Regions from separate parts of the Homo sapiens genome. Here regions 1 and 2 are each linked to region 3. The links come from fine-mapping of genetic effects on gene expression. A gene starts in region 3. Each other region holds a variant in brackets. All regions are shown on one strand. Distances are between the middles of the regions. Region 1 overlaps ZNF473CR (ZNF473 cis regulating lncRNA). Region 2 has its middle 9.8 kb from the start of SNORD88C. Region 3 holds the start of VRK3 (VRK serine/threonine kinase 3).

Region 1 (8,177 bases), 46 kb after region 3:
CATACCTGGCTAATTTTCAAATTTTTTATAGAGATGGGGTCTCACTATGTTGCCCAGGCTGATCTCAAATTCCTGGGCTTAAGTGATCCACCCACCCTGAACATTTCCTTTTTTCTTTTTTAGATGGAGTTTCACTCTTGTTGCCCAGGCTGGAGTGCAATGGTGTGGTCTCGGCTCACTGCAACCTCCGTCTCCTGGGTTGAAGCAATTCTCCTGCCTCAGCCTCCCAAGTAGCTGGGATTACAGGTGCCTGCCACCATGCTTGGCTAATTTTTTGTATTTTTAGTAGAAACGGGTTTCACCATGTTGGCCAGGCTGGTCTCGAACTCCTGACCTCAGGTGATCTGCCCGCCTTGGCCTCCCAAAGTGCTGGGATTGCAGGCATGAGCCACTGCACCCAGTCCAGACATTTTCGTTTTGATGAAACTGTCTTGAATCACTGTAGACAAACATACCATCCCTGATTAAAACATGAAGTAATTACAATAGTTAGGGTGATACTAAAAAGTGAATGTCTATTAAGCGCAGATTACATGCCAGGCATGTTTCTAAGCTGGTTAAATGTAGTACCTCATTTTCACCCTTCAGGCAGGAAACCGAGGCACAGTCTAGTGTTGTGTGAGCAGGAATGGAAGAAACACGCAACACTGCAGGAAGTCACAGAGGGTGCAGAAATCAAAGGAAACTTCCTGGAGGAGGTGAGCCAAGAGGTGACTAGACTAGGGGTGAGGAGGAGATGAATTTTGGTTCAACAAACATGCCTGGCCAGGCACGGTGGCTCATGCCTGTAATCCCAGCACTTTAGGAGGCCAAGGCGGGTGGATCACGAGGCCAGGAGTTCAAGACCAGCCTGGCCAAAATGGTGAAACCCTGTCTCTACTAAAAATACAAAAATTACCCGGGCGTGGTGGTGGGCACCTGTAATCCCAGCTACTCAGGAAGCTGAGGCAGAGAATTGCTTGAACCTGGGAGGTGGAGGTTGCAATGAGCCGAGATCGCGCCACTGCACTCTGGCCTGGGTGACAGAGCAAGACTCTGTCTAAAAAACAAACAAACAAACAAACAAACAAAAAAACATGCCCAAAGGCCTCCCGGTCTCCCTGTGCCACTCCCTGGCACTGCTGGAGATACAGAAATGATCTGGACACTCCCCTGTGCTTGAGGGCGTCTCAGGCTGAAGGGGGAGGCAGACCTGGACACAGTTACAATCCAGGGTGACTCCGGGACTCCTTTCCTACAAGGATCCTGTCCTCCCTCTGTCTTAGGTGCCCAGGCCTATGGTCACAGCCTTCATCTCTGATAATGACACAAATCTCCACATCTTGGTGTCAGACACCCCCTCCCACCTCCCAGCCTCCCGGGGACTTTCTCCACTATACTTTATCTTATTATTTTAATTTTATTTTTTGAGACAGGATCTTGCTCTGTTGCCCAGGCTGGAGTGAAGTTGCACAATCACAACCCACTGCAGACTTGATCTCCCTGGGCTCAAGCCATCTTCCCACCTCAGCCTCCCGAGTGGCTGGGACTACAGGTGCATGCCACCACATCCCGCTAATTTTTACGTTTTTTGTAGAGACAAGGTCTTGCTATGTTGCCCAGGCTGGTCTCGAACTCCTGACCTCAAGCAATCCTCCCACCTCAGCCTCCCCATGTGCTGGGATTACAGGCATGAACCACCGTGCCTGACCTTTCTCCAGTTCTTGACTCCAGCTATCCTTCCATGGACAAGGAGGGTGCCCTAGAGCCTGGCTTGGTGGCTGGGTGAACCATGAGGTCTGCCTCTAACTGCCACAGTCAGGGGACAGAGGAGCAGGGACCCAGGACAGCTAATCTTCTGATACTGCAGCCCCCTCACCATGTATTGCCTCCCATGATTTCACCTTCCACTCTCCAGCCTGGCATTTACCACCCATCCCTGTAACCACTCCCCTGCCTGCACCCCTACCTGCCCTGTCCCTCTTGGCCTGCACTGAGCTCACCAGGTAACAGCCCTGCTGTGGTTAGAGCCAAACAGCCTCTGACCTGGGTGCTGGTGCCCAAGAAGGCATTGCCACTAAGGTCTTTTTTTTTTTTTTTTTTGGAGACAGTCTCTCTCTGTTCCCATGCTGGAGTGCAGTGGCACGATCTCAGCTCACTGCAACCTCCGCCTCCCTAGACAAGATCGTGCCACTGCACTCCAGCCTGGGCAACAGAGCAAGACTCTATCTCCAAAAAAAAAAAGAAGAAGAAGAAGAGGATACACAGACACGGAGGGAAGAGGCCACATGGCACAGACGCAGAGAAAGAAGGGAGGCGGGTACCAGCCAAGAAATGCCAGGAGGCACCAGGTGTTGGAAGAGGTGAGGAAGGACCCTCCCCTGGAGCCTTTGGAGGCAGCGTGGCCGAGCTGTCACCTTGGTTTTAGACTCTGGTCCAGAATCATGAGAGAACTGATGGCTGTTGTCATAAGCCACCACGTTTGTGGTTGTGCATTGTGGCAGCAGCAGGATACACTCCCCCATGCCCCTACTGCTCGTGCCCGTGAGCAGACGCATGTGCTGTCACAGATGCCATCTTAAAGACAACCTTCTGGCCAGGTGCCGTGGCTCACACCTGTAAGCCCAGCGCTTTTCAAGGCCGAAGCCAGCGGATCACTTGAGATCAGGAGTTCGAGACCAGCCTGACCAACACGGTGAAACCCTGTCTCTACTAAAAATTACAAAAATTACCCAGGCGTGGTGGCATGCGCCTGTAATCCCAGCTACTCGGGAGGCTGAGGCAGGAGAGTCACTTGAACCCGGGAAGTGGAGGCTGCAGTGAGCTGAGATCGCACCACTGCACTCCAGCCTGGGCAACAGTGAGACTGTCTCAAAAAAAAAAAAAAAAAAAAAAAGGAAAAAAAGACAAGGCCAGGCGCAGTGGCTCATGCCTGTAATCCCAGCACTTTGGGAGGCCAAGGTGGGCAGATCTCTGAGATTAGGAGTTCGAGACCAGCCTGACCAACATGGAGAAACCCTGTCTCTACTAAAAATACAAAATTAGTCGGATGTGGTGGTGCATGCCTGTAATCCCAGCTACTCGGGAGGCTGAGGCAGGAGAATCGCTTGAACCCAGGAGGCGGAGGTTGTGGTGAGCCGAGATCGCGCCATTGCATTCCAGCCTGGGCAACAAGAGCAAAACTTCATCTCAAAAAAAAAAAAAAAAAAAAAAGACAACCTTCCTGTGATCACCACAGAGTGAGGCAGTGGGGGAACAGAAAGTGGTGACACTGGGGAGAGTGTCAGGGCCAGGACACATACGGGTATGAAAGAGATGGTAAAGACAGTGCCCTGGGCTGGGTGTGGTGGCTCATACCTGGAATGCCAGCACTTTGGGAGGCTGAGGTGGGCAGATCACTTGAGGTCAGGAGTTCGAGACCTGCCTGGCCAACATGGTGAAACCCCATCTCTACTAAAAATACAAAAATTAGCTGGGTGTGGTGGTGCATGCCTGTAATCCCAGCTACTCAGAAGGCTGAGGCAGGAGAATCGCTTGAACCTGGGAGGCGGAGGTTGCAGTGAGCAGAGCTCGTGCTACTATACTCCAGCCTGGGAGACAGAGCGAGACTCCGTCTCAAAAACAAAAAAACAAAAAAAGTCAGTGCCCTGGACTGGCCTGGCCTGGTCTCTGGGTGGGCAGGGGTCTGTCTCTGAGATGGGAGACCTGAAGGAGGAATGAGTTTGGGGGTGACATGACCCGCTCAGGGGAGACAGGGAGTGTGGGGTCCTGAGCCTTCCCCATGGTGGTATTGTGGAGGCCACAAGCTATACAAGGTTGAAACTCATGGGACACATTGAAGGGACACCATTGTGGATGTGTGGAAAAGGGTGAACACAGCCGGCCTGAGATGCTCCCTTTGGAAAGTCCTGATGGCCAGGTAGACCCTAGGCTGAGGTCCAGCAACCTGGACTTTAGGAGGGTTCCCAGAATTTCCTAACTGATGTGGGGCTCACTAGAGCCTCAGTTGCTTGTGGTTTTAATTTTAATTTTAATTTTTTTTAGAGATAGGGGTCTCACTATGTTGCCCAGGCTGGACTCGTAATCCTGGGCTCAAGTGATCCTCCTCTCTTGGCCTCCGAAAGTGCTGGGATTACAGGCGTGAGCCACTGTGCCCAGCCCTAAACTGTTTGTGCAAACACCATGGTTTATGCTGAACACCTGCTTTTTTCCCAGGAGTCTAAAATTTGGGTACATTTTAGTAGAGGGGGCTGTGTGAGCAACCCCCAGGAAAAACCCTGAGCACAGCCGGGCACGATGGCTCACGCTTGTAATCCCAGCTCGTAGGGAGACAGAGGCTGGAGGATAGCTTGAGCCCAGGAGTTCAAGACTTGCCTGGGCAATATAGAGAGATCCTGTTAAAAAAAAAAAATGCTGAGCCCTGAGTCTCTGGTGAGCTTCTCTGGTGATAACATTTCCCATGTGTTGTCACCTCTTGCTGCTGGGAGAATTAAACCATCCTATGTGGCTCCACTGGGAGAAGGTTCTGGAAGCTTGGCCTGGTTTCTCCTGGATGGCGCCCCGGGTGCCCTTCCCCTTTGCCAGCTGTGCTGTCTCCTTTCTCTGTAATAAACCATCACTGAGCGTTTAACTAAGGGCTGAGTCCCTGGCACCCGCTAACAAATCAGTCACCTGTGGTGGTCTTGGGGACCGACCCTGATGGAGAAGTTTGGGCCACGTTTTTAATGAGACCACATTTTTTTTTTTTTGAGACAGAGTCACTCTGTTGCCCAGGCTGGAGTGCAATGGCGAGATCTCAGCTCACTGCAACCTCCGCCTCCCAAGTTCAAGTGATTCTCCCACCTCAGCCTCCTGAGTAGCTGGGATTACAGGTGCCCACCACCATGCCCAGCTAATGTTTGTATTTTTA[G/A]TAGAGATGGGGTTTCACTGTGTTGTCCAGGCTAGTCTCAAACTCCTGACCTCAAATGATCTGGCCGCCTCGGCCTCTCAAAGTGCTGGGATTACAGATGTGAGCTACTGCGTCCAGCCTAAGCCACATTTTTGATGAGTTTGTCCAGAGAAAGTGCGTGAGTGAGGAGGGCTGAGGATGGAGACGTCACATCACCACAGCTACTTACAGGGGAACATAAAGACGGAGAACGACAGGTCCAGGAAGGTGGGAAGTGAAACCAGCAAGGGGGCTGTGCTGAGGTGCAGGGGCAAGACGAGGCCTGGGCAGGGCTGGGGCCGTGGGGATGGTAAGGAGGGTGTAGGAGGGCAGGGCTGTGGCCTGAGGGGTCCTGTGGACAAGGGGAAGTAGGGGATGTTGTGAGCAGAATTGCTGGCATCCCCCTAAAATGCATAAGTTGAAACCTAGTCCCCAGGTGATGGTGTTAGGAGCTGAGGCCTTTTGGAAGCGATTAGGTCATGGGGGTAGAGCTCTCGTGGCAGGGGTTAGTGCCCTTACAAAAGACACCCCAGAGAGCTCTCTTGCTCCTCCACTCTGTAAGGCTATAGAGAGCAGCCTCTGTCGGCCGGATGTGGTGGCTCATGCCCGTAAATCCCAGCCCTTTGGGAGGCCAAAGTGGGTGGATCACTGAGGTCAGGAGTTCAAGACCAGCCTGGCCAACATGGTGAAACCCCCTCTCTACTAAAAATACCAAAAAAATTAGCTGGGTGTGGTGGCGGGCACCAGTAATCCCAGCTATTTGGGGAGGCTGAGGCAGGAGAATCACTTGAACCCGGGAGGTGGAAGTTGCAGTGAGCCAAGATTGCGCCACTGCACTCCAGCCTGGGTGACAGAGTAAGACTCTGACTCAATTAAAAAAAAGAAAGAAAAAAAAAAAGAGAGAAGGCGCCGTCTATGAACCAGGAAGCGCCCTCACCAGACACCAAGTCTGCTGTCGCCTTCATCTTCGACTTCCCAGCCTCCAAAACTCTGACATAAATTTCTTTCTTTCTTTCTTTCTTTTTTTTTTTTGAAACGGAGTCTCACTCTGTCACCCAGGCTGGAGTGCAGTGGCGCGATCTCGGCTCACTGCAAGCTCCGCCTCCCGGGTTCACACCATTCTTCTGCCTCAGCTCCCGAGTAGCTGGGACTACAGGCACCCACCACAATGCCCGGCTAATTTTTTTTATTTTTAGTAGAGATGGGGTTTCACCGTGTTAGCCAGGATGGTCTCGATCTCCTGACCTCGTGATCTGCCCGCCTTGGCCTCCCAAAGTGCTGGGATTACAGGCATGAGCCACCGTGCCCGGCCAACTCTGACATACATTTCTGCTGTTAGAAGCTACCCAGTTTACAGCATTTTGTTAGAGCAGCTCAAACTAAGCAAGTCAGGGCCGAGGATGGTGCCCGGGGGTCTGGTCTGGAGACCTGGGGGGATGTGGGGCCAACCAGAGGTGGGGACCTGGAGGAAGAGAAGCAGGACGGTGGGTGAACTGAGCTCGGCGTGGGGTGGATGTGAGGGGTGGGAGGTGGGGAGGGCTATGCCTGGAGGCAGGAAGGTGGGCAAGTGCAGGATCTCGGAGACACACTAGGGGACAGCGTTTATATGCTCTGGGGAGAAGATGCCGAGGTCAGATTGGGACCTGTTGATTGGGAACATGTCCGGGAGGCGCTTGGAGCCTGAGATTCTGGACTGGGCGTTCCAGTGTGGAGCCTGAAGTCCGGGGACAGGGAGGTCACCATGTGTGGAAGGGAAAGCGTTAGAAGAAGCTGGATGACCAGGCACGGTGGCTGACGCCTATAATCCCAGCACTTTGGGAGTCCAAGGTGGGCACATCACCTGAGGTCAGGAGTTCCAGACCAGCCTGGCCAACACAGTGAACCCGTCTCTACTAAAAATACAAAAATTAGCCAGCATGGTGGTGTGTGCCTGTAATTCCAGCAACTCGGGAGGCTGAGACAGAGGAATTGCTTGAACCCAGGAGGTGGAGATTGCAGTCAGCTGAGATCACGCCACTGCCCTCCAGCCTGGTGACAGAGTGAGACTCCATCTCAAAAAAAAAAAAAAAAAAAAAAAAAGAAGAAGAAGAAGAAGCTGGGGACACAGGCTGAAGAGTTTGCGGGACTCACATTTTACAGGACAGGCCAAGGGACTTGGGCCCTCCTGGCTGCTGGGACTCCAGGCAGAAAGAGAGGAAGGGAGAGGCCCCCAGAAAGAGAGGAAGGGAGAGGCCAGGCGTGAGGGACCAGTGAGAGGAGCACAGAGGCCCCCAGATGGCAGGGGATGGACATGAATGAGAAGAGGGTGCCAGGAGGCATCAGAGAGAGGGCTGGGGGCATCAGAGAGGGTGCCGGGGGCATCAGGCCTCCCCCGGGGGAGGGCAGAGGGAGGGGCCTCACCCAGGGAGAGAAGGTTCCAGTAGTTCTCCAGCATCACGTCTCCAGCAAACTTTCACCACATCACCAGATTTAGTCTGGCCCTGCTGTGGGCTTTTTTCCAGTGATCATGAGGGACCCAACAGCTGGGCACAGAACTCAGATTTGAGATTGGAAAAGACGGGGACTCTACTAAGGTGGATAGGATGGAGGCTACTCCCTCCTCCTGTCATTCACTCATTTATCCATTCATTAATTCATCCCACCAACCTTCCCAGGAGTTTCTGGTGAGCCACTGCCCATGTTGGGCAACGCTGGCGGCACAGAGTCTAGGCCGAGTCCTGACACTGCCCATGAATTTCAGCCCCTCATGCTCCCTGTGGCCCCAGAAGATCCTTCTACACCCAGAGCTTCCCCTCCCCTTCCTTGCTCACAGCCCTCCCGTGGCTCCCCAGTGGCCCCAGGACAGAGTCTCAGCCCCTCTGATACCATGCAGGACTTGCCCCACTCATCCCTACAGCCTCATCTCTCCTCGCATTTGCAGAGACTCCTCTTTTTTGTGCCTCCATTTCCCCATCTGTAGAATGGAATTGTAATACCATCTGTCCGTCACTTCAGGGCCAAGTGAGAAAGCGCATCCTAAATAATGAAACAGGATTGACGTCTTCTCCTGTTGATGATTAGCATCTGTTTCAACTCTCTGTCTCTCACTCCCGAACCTTCTGCACTTTCTCCTTTAGGAAAAGACTGTGACCAGCTTCACAAAAGGCAGCAAAGGACTATCAGAGAAAGAGAACTCCGAGTGAGGGGTAAGCAGCCTGGCCACAGGGAAGGGGCTGGGGGTGGAGATGCCTGCATCTGAGGGAGGAGGGGCTGGGGGCCTGGACTCCTGGGT
Region 2 (8,177 bases), 790 kb after region 3:
GTCCGGATGGGCTGGAGCGCCAGGATAGACCAGAAGTACATGTAATTCAGATAGGACAAGAAGCCTTGTGGAGAGGAAGAGGGCACAGGAGATGAGACACAGAGTTCACCCACCCAATCCCAATCACAGTCCTGTCCCCAGGCCCAATTGCATGCCCTGCTCTGCATCAAACCCCATCCCCAAACCTATTCTTAAACCCATCACCAATTCCATTCCATACCCTAACCTATTCCCAAACCCATCTCCAAACCGAAACTCACCTTCATCCCCTACACTGTCCCTAACCCATACGCAAACTCCAACCCAGTCCCATCCCCATTATCCAGCCCCATGTGCATCCCCAATCCCGCCTCCCACTTCAGTCACTTCCTATCTAGCCCTGTCCACAACCCCACCCCGTCCCAAATGCTATCCCAAATGCTATTCCTGTCTGCATCCCTGAACCCATACCCAAAGCCAACCTCATCCTCTCCCATACCAGTCATCAGGAAGAGGAAGACACTGGCCCAGGTCAGGTAGAAGCTGAGTGCCAGCTGGTAGGTCATGCCTTCCTGCAGGTACCTGTGGGCCTGCAGCAGGTAGAACAGGATACCCAGTACGATGCTGGTTCCTGCATGAGCACAGGTGTTAGGAGGCTGAGAATCAGATATGTAAGGACTCCTTCCCATAGTCATGTGGCTGCCTGGCTCTGGCTCATTATTTCCCCACTTTCTTTAACCTCCCAGACCCTGTACCTTTGCTCCTAAGCATGAAGATGGGCTTCTGACCAAGTCCTGCTAGAGGACACTGAAAGGGCAAGCCTTGGGCTTTAACCAGGCAATGGTAAGTCTGTAACCACAGGTTTTGAGGCCAACAGCAGGGATCTTCCCTGCCTCCACCTCTGGACTTAGGGCAGCCATGCCATATCTCTGAGCCTCAGTTTCCTCATCTGTAGAGTGGGCACAATCATAGGACCCATCTCCTTGGGCCGTCATGAGGAGTTACTGAGGTTGGCACATTTCCTGATACACAGCAAGCCCTTAGGGATTGGGATTGATTATTTTCATTCTATTGGGTCTTTAATTTAGGGCTTCAGAAGCAATAGACAAGGAACTTGGTCATTCTGGATATATTGGAATGACATGAATTAAAGATAATTTGTGAATAGGAAAAGACTTTTTCCCCTGGACAGTGGAGTACTGGGTAGTTTTGTCTGATGTTATTGAAAATAATATAGAAGGTATTTTTTGTTTAATTAAAAGGAGGAATAGACAGAAATGGTTTTCTTATAGAAAAATGTTCTGTTATAGATGGTTTAAAACGAAGGTGTTTTTTATAGTTTTTAGAAAACTCATGCTTTTTTTGCGCAATATTCTATACCTTGTACTTTATATTTAAACAATTAGGAAGAGCTACTAGATAAACTGCATAAATGCTTTTTTTTTTTTTTTTTTTTGAGACAGAGTCTCAATCTGTTGCCCAGGCTGGAGTGCAGTGGCGTGATCTTGGCTCACCACAACCTCCGCCTCCCAGGTTCAAGCAATTCTCCTGCCTCAGTCTCCCAAGTAGCTGGGACTACAAGCGTGCGTCACCACGCCTGGCTAATTTTTGTATTTTTAGTAGAGATGGGGTTTCACTATGTTGGCCAGGCTGGTCTCGAACTCCTGACCTCATGACCCACCCACCTTGGCCTCCCAAAGTGCTGGTGTGAGCCACTGCACTCGGCCAAGTACTGACATTTCTAATTCAATCCTCAGTACGTTTCCATGTGGTAGCAAATTTTGTCCTGATCCTACAGATGAGAAAACTGTGGCTTGGAGAGATGAAGTAGCTTGAACAAAATCACAGAGCTGCTGCTGCTGATGGGACAGGATTTGGGATGAGGTTAGAATGGGAAATAGGATTGGGTATTGGGTAGAGGTTGAAGTTTGAGTGTTAGAGGACGAGGTTGAGAGTGGTGTCAGGAATAGGTTGCAGTTGGGATGGGTTGTGGTTGAAGGTGGGTCGTAGTTGGGGTGGGTTGTGGTTGGGGGTGGGTTATGGTTAGGGGTAAGGATGGGTTGAAATGGGGTAGTTTGTGGTTGAGGATGGGTTGGAACAGGGATGGTCTGGTTGGGGGTGGGTTGGGATGGGGATGGGTTGTGGTTGGGGATGAGGATGGGGATGGGTTATGGTTGGAAGTGGATTGTTGTGGGGATAGGTTATGGTTGGGGGTGGGTTGTGGATGGGATGGTTGTGGTTTGGGTTGGTTGTGGTTGGAGTGAATTGTGGTGGGGAAGGGTTGTGGTGGGGATGGGTGGTGGTTGGGGGTAAGTTGTGATGGGAGTGGGTTGTGGATGAGGATAGGTCATGGTTGGGGATGAAAATGGATTGGATATGGGTAAGAGGATGGAGTGGGGAATGGACTAGATTGAGTTTGGCATTGAAGTTCACAGGTGATAGAATTGGGTTGCATTTGAAACATATGTTGAGGATGGTTGGGATGCTGCAAAGTTGGTTGTTGAGATGTTTGAAGAGGTTGCGGATGGTAATGAGGATGGTTTGGTGATTGGAAAGAATGTAGAATTGGGATGGAGTAGGGGCATGAGGGAAAGGGATGTGAATGAGTTTGAGATTTGTTGGTGATGGAGATGGGACTTGAAGTGGAGGCTGGTATTGGGGCTGGAGATAGGGTTGGGCTGGTGGTTGATGTTTTTTATGGGAATGGGTTAGAGATTTGGAAGGAGATGGGGTTGGGATTGCGGATGATGGTCAGGATGGGGATGGGATTGGAGTGTGGTGGGGATGGGATTGGGTTTCATGATTGGCACTGGAGGAGGTACTCCTCGCCTTGGTTCCTGAGGGAAGTGCCATGCCTGTCAGGATGCTGGTGATGAAGGTGAAGAAATCCAGCATGGACGGGTTGGAGCCGGTAAAGAGGATGGTGCTTATTAGGGCTATGCAAAGGCAGAAGCTGGTGATGCTGGAGAAGAGGAGGAAGGCCCAGGAAAGGTCCAGCAAGTCTGGGGAAGGAAGATAATCAGGAACACCATGATTGGCCCAGGCTCTGAGTATGGGGACAAGGGTCACCAGTTGGTGTGGGAGTATTCTCAAAGCTCCTCCCTTGCAAATTATTTATTCTCATTTTAGGAAAATTTAAATTGGGCTCCAGAGAAGAGACATTGAGACTGATACTTCCAGCACTGAGGATCTACCTCTAGGTTGGTGAGGGCAGCTTCTTGGGCAGTGAGAAGTGGGGTGGGCAGTGAGGAGCATTCCCAGAAGTGAGGACCACTCTAGGGCTGTGAGGACAATCCTAGGGCAGTGAGAACCCTCTGAGGCAGTGAGGACCGTCCCAGTCATTGAGGACCATCCGAGAGAGTGAGGACTATCCCAGGGAGTGACGACCATCCCAGGCAGTGAGGACCATCTCAGGCAGGGAGGACCATCCCAGGCAGGGAGGATCATCCCAGGCAGTGAGGACCATCTCAGGCAGGGAAGACCATCCCAGGCAGTGAGGACCATCCCAGGCAGTGAGGACCATCTCAGGCAGGGAGGACCATCTCAGGCAGGGAGGACCATCCCAGGGAGTGAGGACCATCCCAGTCAGTGAGGACCATCCCAGGGAGTGAGGACCATCCCAGGCAGTGAGGACCATCCCAGGGAGTGACGACCATCCCAGGCAGTGAGGACCATCTCAGGCAGGGAGGACCATCCCAGGCAGGGAGGACCATCTCAGGCAGGGAGGACCATCTCAGGCAGGGAGGATCATCTCAGGCAGGGAGGATCATCCCAGGCAGGGAGGATCATCTCAGGCAGGGAGGACCATCCCAGGCAGGGAGGATCATCTCAGGCAGGGAGGACCATCCCAGGCAGGGAGGACCATCCCAGGCAGGGAGGACCATCTCAGGCAGGGAGGGCCGTCCCAGGCAGGGAGGGCCGTCCCAGGCAGTGAGGACCATCTCAGGCAGGGAGGACCATCCCAGGCAGGGAGGACCATCCCAGGGAGTGAGGACCATCCCAGGCAGGGAGGACCATCCCATGGAAGTAAGGGCCATCTCAGGCAATGAGGACCATCCCAGGGTGGTGAGGATAATTCTGGGGCAGTGAGGATTATTCCAGGGCAGTGAGGACCATCCTGGACCAGTGAGTACTATCCCAGGGCAGTGAGAATCATTCGAGAGCAGTGAGGAGTATCCCAGGGCAGTGAGGACTATCCCGGAGCAGTGAGGACCATTCTAGAGCTGTGAGGACTATCCCAGGGCAGTGAGGATTATCCTGGGGCAGTAGGGACTATCCTATGACAATGAGGACCATCCCAGTGCTGTGAGGACCATCCTGGGGCAGTAAGGACCATCTCAGTCAGTGAGGATCATTTCAGTCAGTGAGGATCATCCTGTGGCTGGGAGGACCACCCTGGGGCCGTGAGACTCATAAAATACCTGTGAAGATCATTGCAGGAAAGGAAGAAACCATTCTGTGACAGGTGGAGGGGTCCCTGGGATAAAGTGGAGCGATGGGTCCCAGGAGTGGTGAGGGCAGGGCAGGCCTTCCAAGCATCCTGGCTGTGCTCATGCAGGCAGGAGATGTCACAGCACTGCTTCTCCTCCCCCAGAAGTCTAGCTCAGAACTTGGCCTCCGGCCTGGGCACTGCCTCATACCTGCCAGAATTGATCTCAATGGAGCTGCACAATGAGAGGTTTTGCATGTTGTCTAGAGGACTTTGGTTGAGTTCAGAGCTGAGCACACTTGCCTTCAGACTCTCCTGGGACTCCCAGGTAACTGATTCAATGCTTTTGATACTGGGCT[C/T]GGGGCCGTAGGTAAGTGATGGGAGCACATTGACAATGGCCCAGGCTTGGAAGTTGGGGGTTGGAACACTTAAATGGGCAGTCTCGGTTGTTGACAGGTAGTTTTGGTCATGATCTTTGTTGCTGGGGATAATTGATGATTAGTCAGGGGGTGAGAGCCTTGGATACTGAAGCAGCGAGTTTGGAAAATTGGTGAAGCACCTCGCATACTGAAATCGTGGCTGTAGGTAATGGCTGGTGTTTCTGGGATACTGATCTGTTGACTGCTGATAGCTGGTGTAGGGTCTTGGATACTGACCTGGTGATTGTGAATAATTGGCAAGGGGTCTTGGATACTGACCAGGCGATTGCTGCTGGCTGGTGGAGGCTGTTGGATACTGACCCCGTGACTGTTCCTGGCTGGTGGAGGGTCTTGGATACTGACCCGGGAATTGTAGGTAATTGGCACCACCGTGCCTGGCTAATTTTTTTGTAATTTTAGCACAGATGGGGTTTCACCATGTTGGTCAGGCGGGTCTCGAACTCTTAACCTCAGGTGATCCACCTGCCTCAGCCTCCCAAAGTTCTGGGATTACAGGCATAAGCCACTGCGCCTGGCCCTTATTATTATTTTTTAAGGTATAGAAATCTAGAATTTTTTTTTTTTTTTCTGAGACAAAGTCTGGCTCTATCACCCAGGCTGGAGTGCAGTGGCATGAGATCTCGGCTCACTGCAACCTCCGCCTCCCAGGTTCAAGCCATCCTCTCACCTCTGCCTCCCACGTAGTTGGGACTACAGGGGAGTGCTACTATTCCTAGCTATAATTTTGTATTTTTTGGTAGAGGTAGAGTTTTGCCATGTTTCCCAGGCTGGTCTCGAACTTGTAAGCTCAAGCAATCTGCCCACCCCAGCCTCCCAAAGAGCTGGGATTACAGGCATGAGCCACTGTGCCCAGCCTTAGAATTTTTAGGTAGTTTAATTTCTTCACCTTTGTCTCTGTGACTTTATTAATTGCTTCTTGGCTTCGGGAGGTTCTCCCTCCAGATTTTTGATGAACATTCAGTTCTGTTTTTTTAAATTCTCATTACTTATTTTTAGGTTTTGATTGTGATTTTGGAGTTGGTATGCAGGGAACATTGAATTCTGTGCTCCCTGCTGTCCTAAGGAAGGGACTTGAATTAGTCAGGAGTTTTTGGGTCACAAGTGACACAAACTCTTTTTTTTTAAATTTTTTTTATTTTTTACTTTTTTAAATTTGAGATGGAGTTTCACTCTTTCACCCAGGCTGGAGTGCAGTGGCGTGATCTTGGTTCACTGCAACCTTCACCCCCCGGGTTTGAGCGATTCTCCTGCCTCAGCCTCCGGAGTAGCTGGGATTACAGGCGCCCGCTGCCATGCCCGGCTAACTTTTATCTTTTTAGTAGAGACGGAGTTTCACCATGTTGGCCAGGCTGGTCTCAAACTCCTGACCTCAGGTGATCCACCTGCCTCGGCCTCCCAAAGTGCTGGGATTACAGGTGTGAGCCATCGTGCCCAGCCACAAGTGACACAAACTCTAACTTGAACTAGCTTGAGTGAACTAGTTGTATTAGCTTGAGTGAACTAACTTGAACTAGCTAGGGGATCCTTTATGGGATCACCTGAGTGAAAAATGGTAATGGTAGGAATGCCTTCAGGCATGGGTGGATCCAGGGGCCCAAGTGATAGTATCAGATATTACTGTTTTTTGGCTATGGGATTGGCTTCATTCTCAAGGCTCTGTGTAGTGGCAAGTCAGAATCCAGTAAGGAAAATAAATCATTCCAGATTCTTCAGAAGGAAGTAAATACAGGGAATTTGTTCGTGAGTAACAGAGGAGCTGAGAAGCCAATAGGAAATAGTGAGGCAAACCAGGAGTTAGGAACTACAGGATGCTGCTACTTGGCCAGAAGGACAAAGGGAGGAGGTGGTATTACTACAGTCCAGAAACTGCAGCCCTCTGGAACGCATAGGTTCATGGTTGGATTGCTCAGAAGTGGCTAGAATCAGAGAATAGATACAACTACTACGGAAGACCCACCACATGCAGAGATAGAGAGGCTAATAAATACCCTGGCTTGCCCTCTCCTCCCAGAACCAGTCTTCTGCCAGTGCCTCCCATTAGTCAAACACAGTGATAAGATGGTGAGCAAAGGAGGCTGGGAAATGTGGTCCTTGCAGTGCAGAACAGGACAGGGCGGGAAATGGATCTGAGAGCAGACAGACAAAAAACTGGCAGAGTTGTTAGCAACTTGGCAGAGTTGGTAATAACTGCCGAGTCCGGTAGAAAAAAGTTATCAACAGTTCTTGCAAGAATCCTGTGTGGCTTGGGGCACATGAGCACCCCGAGCCAATTATATGGCCAGTGGAGTACAGTTGGCTGATTGGCTTAAGACTGGGGCTGAGAATGGGGAATGGGCAGGAGGTGAAATGCATGGTGGGGAGGTAAGCTGCAAATATCCACTCATTCTGACCAAATCACAGAGTGGGCTGCTCTCTGGGATGACGAGAGCCAGGGACTTCAGTGTCAGCTCAATGCTCTTTCGCTTGTCTGTTTTCCTTCTTAGTTTTACTCTCCCCATGAAGCTAGGTCCAAGGCTTAGGCAGCTTCAGGCTTGTAATCCTTGAGGAGAGACTGCTTTTCCTTGACAGCTTCCTAATAAAAAGTCTTGGGGCAGAGCTTGATTGGTTGGGCTTTGGTCATGTGTCCATCTTTGGGCCAATTGCAGGGTCTGCAGCTGGGGTACTGTGATTGGCTCAGCCAGAATCACATGATTACCTCTGTGGCCCAGAGGCCAGCATATGCCAGGAGAATCCCTCATCCAGGGTTATGTGAGTTGGGTGGAGGGTGTCCCCAAGAGATGTCAGGCTGCTGTTCTGGGCAGACCAAATTCACCATTCAAGGTCTTGGTTTCTGGCTTGGTGCCTTCTCCCTGACCTCTGCTTCTTGACTCTTCAATGAGCAGAAAGAACTAAGGGAACTGGCTGGGCATGGTGGCTCACACGTGTAATCCCAGCACTTTGAGAGGCCAAGGAGGGAGGATTGCTTGAGCTCAGTAATCTGAGACCAGCCTGGGTAACAGTGAGACCCCATCTCTATGAACAAAACAAAACAAAAACAAAAAACCAAGGGGTCTGATATTTCCCCCACTTCCCAGAGTGCTGTTGCTCTTCTGTATATATGATGATCCTTTATCTTTCTTGTTGGGTATTAGAGATGTGCAGTTTGCCAGAAACAAAGCAGATGAGGTCTTGGCCTATTTGGCTAAAACAATTTTGCACTGTTGAAAAGTAGACAAAGTAGAAAAAGGGCTAAAAGGAGGAGATGTAGCATCTCGGAAACAGGTAAACCTCTCTTCTGCTGGAAGTCTAAGTTGGATAAATATCCACTGTAAACTGGAACTAAGCTTTTG
Region 3 (8,177 bases):
ACTTCATAGGAGAGTGTGGCATTTGTATTTTCCAAAGCAGGTCACATGACTATTTCTGGTCCTGTGTGCTCTTTGGAACCTTGTAACCCCTCCTCCCAGGAGTCAGGGTCTCTGTTCCTCCCCCTTTGGATCTCGGCAGAGCTGTGACTGCTCCTACCAATAGAGGACCGGCAGCAGTAAGGCCATGAGACTTCCCAGGCTGGGTCATAAAAAACAACTTGCACCTGGCTGGCTCGCTCAGGATGCTCACCCATGGAAGCCAGTTTCCACGGCATGAGGCAGCCTAAAGTAGCCCAGGCAGAGAAACCACATGGAGAGGCTCAGGTGGAGAGGAACTGAGGCCCCTGGCCAACAGCCACCATCAGCTGCTGGGTGAGTGGGCAAGTCCTCAGACCACTTAAACCCCAGCCTTCAAGTCTTCCTGCTAAGGCACAGGCACTGGGGAGCAGAAACAGGCCACCTCACTGTGCTCACTCTGAATTCCTGGCCCATAGGATCCATGGGCACAAGAAATGGTGGTTCTACACCAGTGAATTGTGGGACGATTTGTTCTCTAGACATAGTAACCGGGACAGGGAGTCCCTGCTGCACAGAGAGGTCAAGTCACTCACTTAAGACGGTTCTCATTTCATGACAGTTCAGTATGTGCAGACCACTGTGCTAAGTTCTCGGCAGGTATTATCTACAGAACCTTCCCAATCACCCTTTTCAAGGTAAGAATGATTTCCCCTTTGGGGAGATGAGAAGCAGAGGCTCAGAGAGCAAATGACTTGCCCAGGGCCACAAACCTCTTAAGCGGCGAGCCAGACACATGATTTTGTTTAATCTTTCCCTCCACTCTATGAGGTAGGGATGATTATCCCATCTTTGAAACCTACAAAATGATGCTCAAAGGGTGACAATTCTCCTTCCCCCAGACCTGACTCCACTCACCTAGAAAACAGTGGGGACGCAGCTGAAATCCAGAACCCAAAAGCCCATGTTCTTCACCTGGTGCCAATTTATACAACGAAAACGCAAAACCGGACTGGGTTCTTGGGGCAGCAGGTCAGAACATTCTTGTAGATTTAAATCTGGAAGCTGATGTTGGGTGTGGAACCACGGCAAGAGAGTCTTTTAACCATGTGCCACCCCCGGTTCTGACACCGTCACCAGCCTGGTCTAGGCCACCATCTCTCCCTTGTGCTACTGCAGCAGCCTCCTAACTAGACTTTCGGCTTCTACGCTTGTCCCTACAATCTATTTTCAACCCAGTAGCTTGACGGATCCACTTAAAATCTAAGTCAGACCCTGTCTGTGTCCCTGCCCTGGCCCATATGGTGGGTCGGACACGGTGGCTCACGCCTGTGATCCCAGCACTTTGGGAGGCCGAGGTGGGCGGATCACGTGAGGTTAGGAGTTCCAGACCAGCCTGGACAACATGGTGAAACCCCGTCTCTACTAAAAAAGTACAAAAAAAAAAATCAGCCGGGCGTGGTGGTGGGCACCCGTAATCCCAGCTACTTGGGAGGCTGAGGCGCAAGAGTCGCTTGAACCTGGGAGGCAGAGGTTGCAATGAGCCAAGATTGCACCGCTGCACTCCAGCCTGGGCAACAGAGCAAGACTCAGTCTCATAAATAAACAAATAAATAAATAAAATGTAAGTCAGACCCTGTCCCTCCTCTACTCAAAACCGTATGGTGGATTTCATTTTAGACAGAATAAATGCTGAAATTCCTACCATGGCCCAGGAGCCCCCTGTATGATCTGCCACTTCCCTGTTCCCTCTCTGACCTCTCCCACCTCTCCCCTTGCTCACGCTGAGTCAGCCACAACAGCTTCGGTGCTTTTCCCCAATCGTGACAAGAACGTTTCTTCCCCAAGACCTTTGCACCTGCTCTCCCATCTGCCTGGAACGCTGTCCCCCTAAGAGTGCACACAGTTAACTTCCTCATCACATTCTTTAGCTCTCTGTTCAAATGTCACCTTCTCAGAGACCTTCTTGGACACGATTTTACTGTGTTTTTTCTTTTCTTTTTTTTGAGATGGAGTTTGGCTCTTTTCGCCCAGGCTGGAGTGCAATGGCACGATCTCGGCTTACTGCAAACTCTGCCTCCCGAGTTCAAGTGATTCTCCTGCCTCAGCCTCCCATGTAGTTGGGATTACAGATGCGTGTCACCACGCCTGGCTAATTTTATATTTTTAGTAGAGATGGGGTTTCACCATGTTGGCCAGGCTGGTCTTAAACTCCTGACCTCAGGTGATCCCCCTCAGCCTCCCAAAGTCCTGGGATTACAGGCTCGAGCCACCGTGCCTGGCCCTGGACACCATTTTACTAATAGCATGTTTTATCCTCCTTACCTTGCTTTATTTTTCTTCACAGTGCTTGTCACTACCTGACATACTCTGACTTACTAGAATGTAAGCTTCATGATGGCGGGGACTTTTCCCTGCCTTGTTTGCCACAGTGTGCCCAGAGCCTCAAACAGGCCTGGCACAGAGCAAATGCTGGGTCTACGTCTGCTGAGTGAATAAATCATTGTCTCCTTTGCAAAAGAAAATGTGCCAAGAAGGTGGGTGGGGGGGGTCCCCAGCTGTGTCAGTACACATTCATCTCTCAGGCAAATCTAGACATCCAGCCAGAGACTCAAAGCTCAGGGCCGGAATTATCTAGCTGGATGGTCCCTAAAAAAGACGTGCCACTTAGAAGCAGATCAGTACAGGGGTTAAGAGGATAAACTTGGGAAATAATCTGCCTGGGTTTGGATCTTGCTTCTGCCATGTATTGCATGATGGACAGAGTTTTGCTATGTCACCCAGGTTGGAGAGCAGTGGCACGACCTCAGCTCACTTGCAACCTCCGCTTCCTGGGTTCAAGCGATTCTCCCTGCCTCAACCTCCCGAGTAGCTGGGATTACAGGCGCATGCCACCATGCCCGGCTAATTTTTTTATTTTTAGTAGAGATGGGGTTTCACCATGTTGGCCAGGCTGGTCTCGAACTCCTGAACCCAGGTGATCCGCCCACCTCGGTCTCCTAAAGTGCTGGGACTACAGGCGGGAGCCACCGTGCCCAGCCAAATTTTTTGGATTTTAGAACCTATTACATATTACAACACCGGCGAGATCCAGGGGCAACTCTCCATAAGTATATGATTTGCACAACAAAATCTTTAAAAATTCTAAATAGTCACACATCAGTTCAGAGTGGGTATTGCCAGCAAACAAGTTCAAAGCCAGGTGAGGTTGGCCTGCCAAGTAAGTTGCAAAACAGAGAAAAAGACCTTTCAGTTTTCAGAACGTTTTGGATTTTAAAGTTATAGATAAGGGACTGCAGACCTGTAAATATTCTTTAACATTTCTTTTTTAGTGTCTGGCATCCCCAACCACCCTGAGAATGTGAATTAGCTGGGCAGGATTTTTGTTTTAGACACTGCTATAATAACCTGGGCTTGAACAGTGCCTATTAGACTAGCACCGTTCAAACCCAGGTTATAGTAGTGTAATATCGGTTGCACGGAGCCTTCCATATAGTAAACGCTCAATAAAATTGGATGTGCTGAAGTCACCTATGCAATGGCCAGGTCAGGACTTGAAACCCTAAGACTCCAACCCTCAGGCCAGTCTTTATCTTAATTTATTTGACTTATTCAACAAATGTTTAGGGAACAGCTGCTATGCGTCAACTACTGTATAGTGTTCCTCCTAGAAAGTTCAGGAAACAGCACAGCAAAAAGGCTAAAAGTCAGACCCCACCTCAGCGCAGGTGGGGCGATTGCCTAGGCGACGACAGAGCCTCCCTTCGGCCGCACCTCCATAGAAACCACGGGATGACTTAGACGCCAAGTTTCACAGCGGAGGAGCTGTCGAACTTCCCACAAGTTCCGCCCATCTCCGCCTTAGCCATGCCCAACACGGAGCCCAAGGTGGCTTGGGAAGCTCAAGAGGAGGCCAGTGAACCCCGCGACCCGGAGCCGCTCTCATTCCGAACCCCGACAGCAGGGGCCTCCGCCTCCCACAAACGGTCGTGCTGACGTCACGGACGCCCCGGCCGAGCTGCGGCTAGGGGGTCGGGGGACGTCCCCTCGTTCGCCTCGCTTCCCCTCACCTCTGTACTTGGGGACTGGGGTGGGATTCTGGGCTTCTGCAGCCTGACCCTCGGATCCTCCGCAGTTACCCGGACTCACCTTCTCAGTTGCCCAGCGAAAACTTCCGCTGGGCGGAGAGCGCTGCGCGCGCATCCTGAATCTGAGGCGCCCGCGCAGGCGCCGCTGACTTCCTGACGGCCCCTGGGCTTCGCCTGCCTGGGAACTCCGTTTCCCAGATGCCTCCGCGGCAGGCCCGCCCTCTGATTCCAGACGGAATGGGGATTATTCCCTCATTGCTCATCCCCCTCCCCTCCGTTCTAGCCGCTTTGGAACGCCTTCTGGTTCTACTGCGCATGTGTCAGTGTCAGACCAATCGGAATGCACCGTGAGGTACCTCTCCACCAATCAGAGGTCACATTACCTAAACTTCTGCCTCAACTCCGCCCCTTACTTCCGCTTGTTTTCTCAGAAACCCGTCACAACGCGTTTCCATGGCAACCTACCGCTTGCTCTTCGGAAAAGGTTAACACTCCCTGACTTCTAGTAAAGGCAAGAAGCTAATTAGATGATTCTTTAACAAGGTAAAAATCTGGACTACAAACTGATGCCGCCTGGTCCTGATTCTCTTTCTACTCTACTCCCACAGTGCTAAGGCTGAAGAAGCAGGAGGAGATGGGAAGGCGAAAGAAGTCGCCCGCACAGCCCTCTGGGAAATAGAGTCCTGGCGCTGCCGCGGAGGATCCTGGGTGCAGCCGCTCAGAGAAGCTTCTCGCGCACAGGAAGTCGCTGCGAGGAGGCGCGTGTGCGGGGAGTTGAATCTCCCGCTCCCTTGAGGCTGGGGTTGCGTCTGTTGACGCGGCCGACTACAATCCCGAGGTACGGAGACGCTGGGGCTGAGGGACTTGCGGGCTCGGTCCTTCCTGAGAGGTGACGGAATGCAAGTGGGGGCGACTTCGGCAAAGGGTGCGTCGCCTTGGGCGGCGGTTGTCAGGGTGAAGGTGTGAACCGTCTTTCACAGTCTGTTATGAAAACCGCTCAAGGTCTGGGCACGGTAGATCACGCCTGTAATCCCAGCACTTTGGGAAGCCTTGGCGGGGGGGATCACTTACAGCCAGGAGTTCCTCGAACCCCCAGTCTCTACTAAAAATACAAAAATTAGTTGAGCGTGGTGGCGGGGGCCTGTAATCCCAGCTACTCAGGAGGCTGAGGCAGGAGAATCGCTTGAACCCAGGAGCTGGAGGTTGCAGTGAGCCGAGATCGCGCCATTGCACTCCAGCCTGGGTGACAGAGCGAGACTACATCTTAAAAAAAAAAAAAAAAAAAGAAAGGAAGAAAACCACCTTGGGAGGCTGAGGTGGGCGGATCGCTTGAGCCCAGGATTTCGAGGCTAGCCTGGGCCAGATGGTGAAGCCCTGTCTCCACAAAAGAAGAAAAAAATAGAAAAATTAGCCGGGCGTGGTGGTGCGCCCCTGTATTCCTAGCTAATTGGGAGGCCGAGGTGGGAGGATTGCTTGAACCCAGGAGGCAGAGGTTGCAGTGAGCTGAGAAAGAAAAGAAAAGAAAAGAAAACTGCTAAAGGGGTTTCCAGGCCTCCCTGATGGCCCTGAGAGGAGTGGTTCTGTTTTATTTTGGTTTTGGTTGGGGAAGGAGGGGAATGAGTTACCTGAAGTTGGCAAATTTAGGCAGAATCTTGCTGGACGATGGATGGGAGTTCTTCGGGAAGTTGAAGTACTTAACATTTACAGTATTTGAGTGCTTTCTGTGTGCCAGGCGCCCTGCTGGAGTTGCATTTCCTCTTCTGATCCCCGCAGCAGCACTGAGACATAAGTGCAGGTCCCCTTGGCACCAAGGCAATCTCGGGAATCAGAATTTTTCAGATTTTAGAAAGCTAATAGGGTGCATATTTTATAATTAGGCAGCACCCCCCCACACCCCGAGGAATCTGGGCCAGTTTTTGGTCATAAAATGTTTCTGTGGGGCAAGGTGTGAATATTCACACTTATGAGAACATTAAGACCCTACATGGCCTGTGGCAATCCAGGTGAAGTTTTGCGGTCAGTTTATAAATCAAGTTCTGGTTTTTGGAGCATTTAAAGGACCATAGATCTGTTGTATTTGTTCCATTTGGTACATGTGGAAACTAAGGCTTAGAGAAGGTAAATGGTCTGGAAGGAAGGGCAAGACTCTTGGGCCCAAGGTCTCTCAGCCTGATAATTGTTTGGCTTAAGTCACTCTGGGCTGGATGACCTTGGGCTCCACCTCTGGGCCCTCGTTTCTTTCCTCCCAGAGCTGAGAGTATATGAGATGTGGGCAGAATGTGATTTGGTAACTGCAGACAGGGATCTCAAGCTCAGCTGTCTGTGAGGGCCAGGCAGATGACATACAGGAAAGAAGAGAACTGGTCCAGGTGAGGCTGCGGGGCCTTGGGGAGCACTTGCCTCATCTGAAGGGGAGAATTGTGTTTTTTTTTTGATGACAGAGTCTCGCTCTGTCACCCAGGCTGGAGTTCGGTCTCACTGGAACCTCCACCTCCCCGGTTGAAGCGATTCTCCTGCCTCAGCCTCCCAAGCAGCTGGAATTACAGGCGTGCACCACCATGCCTGGCTAATTTCTGTATTTTTGGTAGATACGGGGGTTTCACCATGTTGATCAGGCTGGTCTTGGACTCCAAACTTCAGGTGATCCGCCTGCCTTGGCCTCCCAAAGTGCTGGGATGGCAGGCATGAGCCACTGCACCCAGCCGCTTTTTAAACTTAAATTTAATTTTTTTGGCCGGGTGTGGTGGCTCATGCCTGTAATCCCAGCACTTTGGAAGGCCGAGGTGGGTGGATCACGAGGTCAGGAGATCGAGACCATCCTGGCTAACACGGTGAAACTCCGTCTCTACTAAAAATACAAAAAATTCTCCGGGCGTGGTGGCAGGCGCTTGTAGTCCCAGCTACTCAGGAGGCTGAGGCAGGAGAATGGCATGAGCCCGGGAGGCAGAGCTTGCAGCGAGCTGAGATCGCGCCACTGCACTCCAGCCTGGGCGACAGAACGAGACTCCGTCTCAAAAAAAAAAAAAAAAACAAATTTAATTTTTTTTTGGAGGCAGGATCTTTCTCTGTCATTCAGGCTGGAGTACAGTGACACAATCATAGCTCACTGCAGCCTTGAACTCCTGGGCTCAAGTGATCCTCCTACCTCAGCCTCCCAAGCGATCCTCCTACCTCAGTCTCCCAAGTAGTTGGGACTACAGGCACGTGCCACCACAACTTGCTCATTTTTAATTTTTTTTTTTTAGAAACAAGGTCTTGTTACGTTGCCCAGGCTGGTCTCGAACACCTTTCAGCCTCCCAAAGTGCTGGGATTATAAGCATCCCCCACTTGCCTAGCACTGGTGGGGGAGCTTTAAATGGGCACCAGTGAACTAACTTCGTGGGATGTAGACCCAATGTTGCCAAATCCTAGGATGTTTCAGAAGTTGGAAACATAATTTTTAGGTGAAATTTCCCAATTTTCAAGTTTGAGACTAGTGAGCCATGCTTGAATTTTCTTTCAAAACATTCTGTCTGCCAACAAACATTATGGGCCAAATATCTGTCAACTGAGTTATACTCGTAGGTTGAGGCTTAACCTCTGACATGTAGAAAAACTCATTGTTCAGTAGAATTAGCATTTATTGTAGGTCTACCATATTCCCATATTTGTAGTCTCAAAAATCTGGACAACTCAGAACAACAAATTTTTTTTCATAAATTTAGTGTCCGTGCCTTACCTGAACTACTACAGGGTATTTTTTAAATATAACTTTAAATTATTCTACCTAGAATGAACGATGATACTTTTCTCTAGGGTAAAGTGTTCAATTATGAAATGCAGCCTGATCCACACTGCGCTGGGACTTTGTTTTGTTTTGTTTTTGTTTTTGTTTTTGAGACGGAGTCTCGCTCTGTCGCCCAGGCTGGAGTGCATGGCGCCATCTCGGCTCACTGCAAGCTCCACCTCCCGGGTTCACACCATTCTCTCGCCTCAGCCTCCTGAGTAACTGGGACTACAGGCGCCCACCACCATGCCTGGCTAATTTTGTTATTGTATTTTTAGTAGAGACGGGGTTTCACCGCGTTAGCCAG

Evidence for each region. PIP is the estimated chance that this variant, and not a neighbour inherited with it, causes the effect.
Region 1: its variant is fine-mapped to the expression of VRK3 in whole blood (TOPMed, PIP above 0.99). The same link has a PIP of 0.9 or more in esophagus muscle and pancreas.
Region 2: its variant is fine-mapped to the expression of VRK3 in monocytes after LPS (Kim-Hellmuth 2017, PIP 0.95).

What each region holds. Positions count from the first base shown.
Region 1 is chr19:50,067,103-50,075,279 of GRCh38, forward strand. ZNF473CR (ZNF473 cis regulating lncRNA) reads left to right here. Exons shown (of 5, transcript NR_138096.1): 3 at 589-698; 4 at 8,023-8,091. Among named protein-coding and RNA genes, the nearest start is that of ZNF473CR, 21 kb to the left of the region's middle. The variant G/A (reference allele first, on the strand shown) is at 4,889.
Region 2 is chr19:50,808,149-50,816,325 of GRCh38, forward strand. It overlaps the pseudogene TMEM277P. Among named protein-coding and RNA genes, the nearest start is that of SNORD88C, 9.8 kb to the left of the region's middle. The variant C/T (reference allele first, on the strand shown) is at 4,768.
Region 3 is chr19:50,021,182-50,029,358 of GRCh38, forward strand. VRK3 (VRK serine/threonine kinase 3) reads right to left here and starts at 4,191. Exons shown (of 15, transcript NM_016440.4): 1 at 4,086-4,191. ZNF473 (zinc finger protein 473) reads left to right here and starts at 4,824. Exons shown (of 5, transcript NM_015428.4): 1 at 4,824-4,941. RefSeq lists enhancers at 3,497-3,998, 4,048-4,127, 4,468-4,517, 4,928-4,977.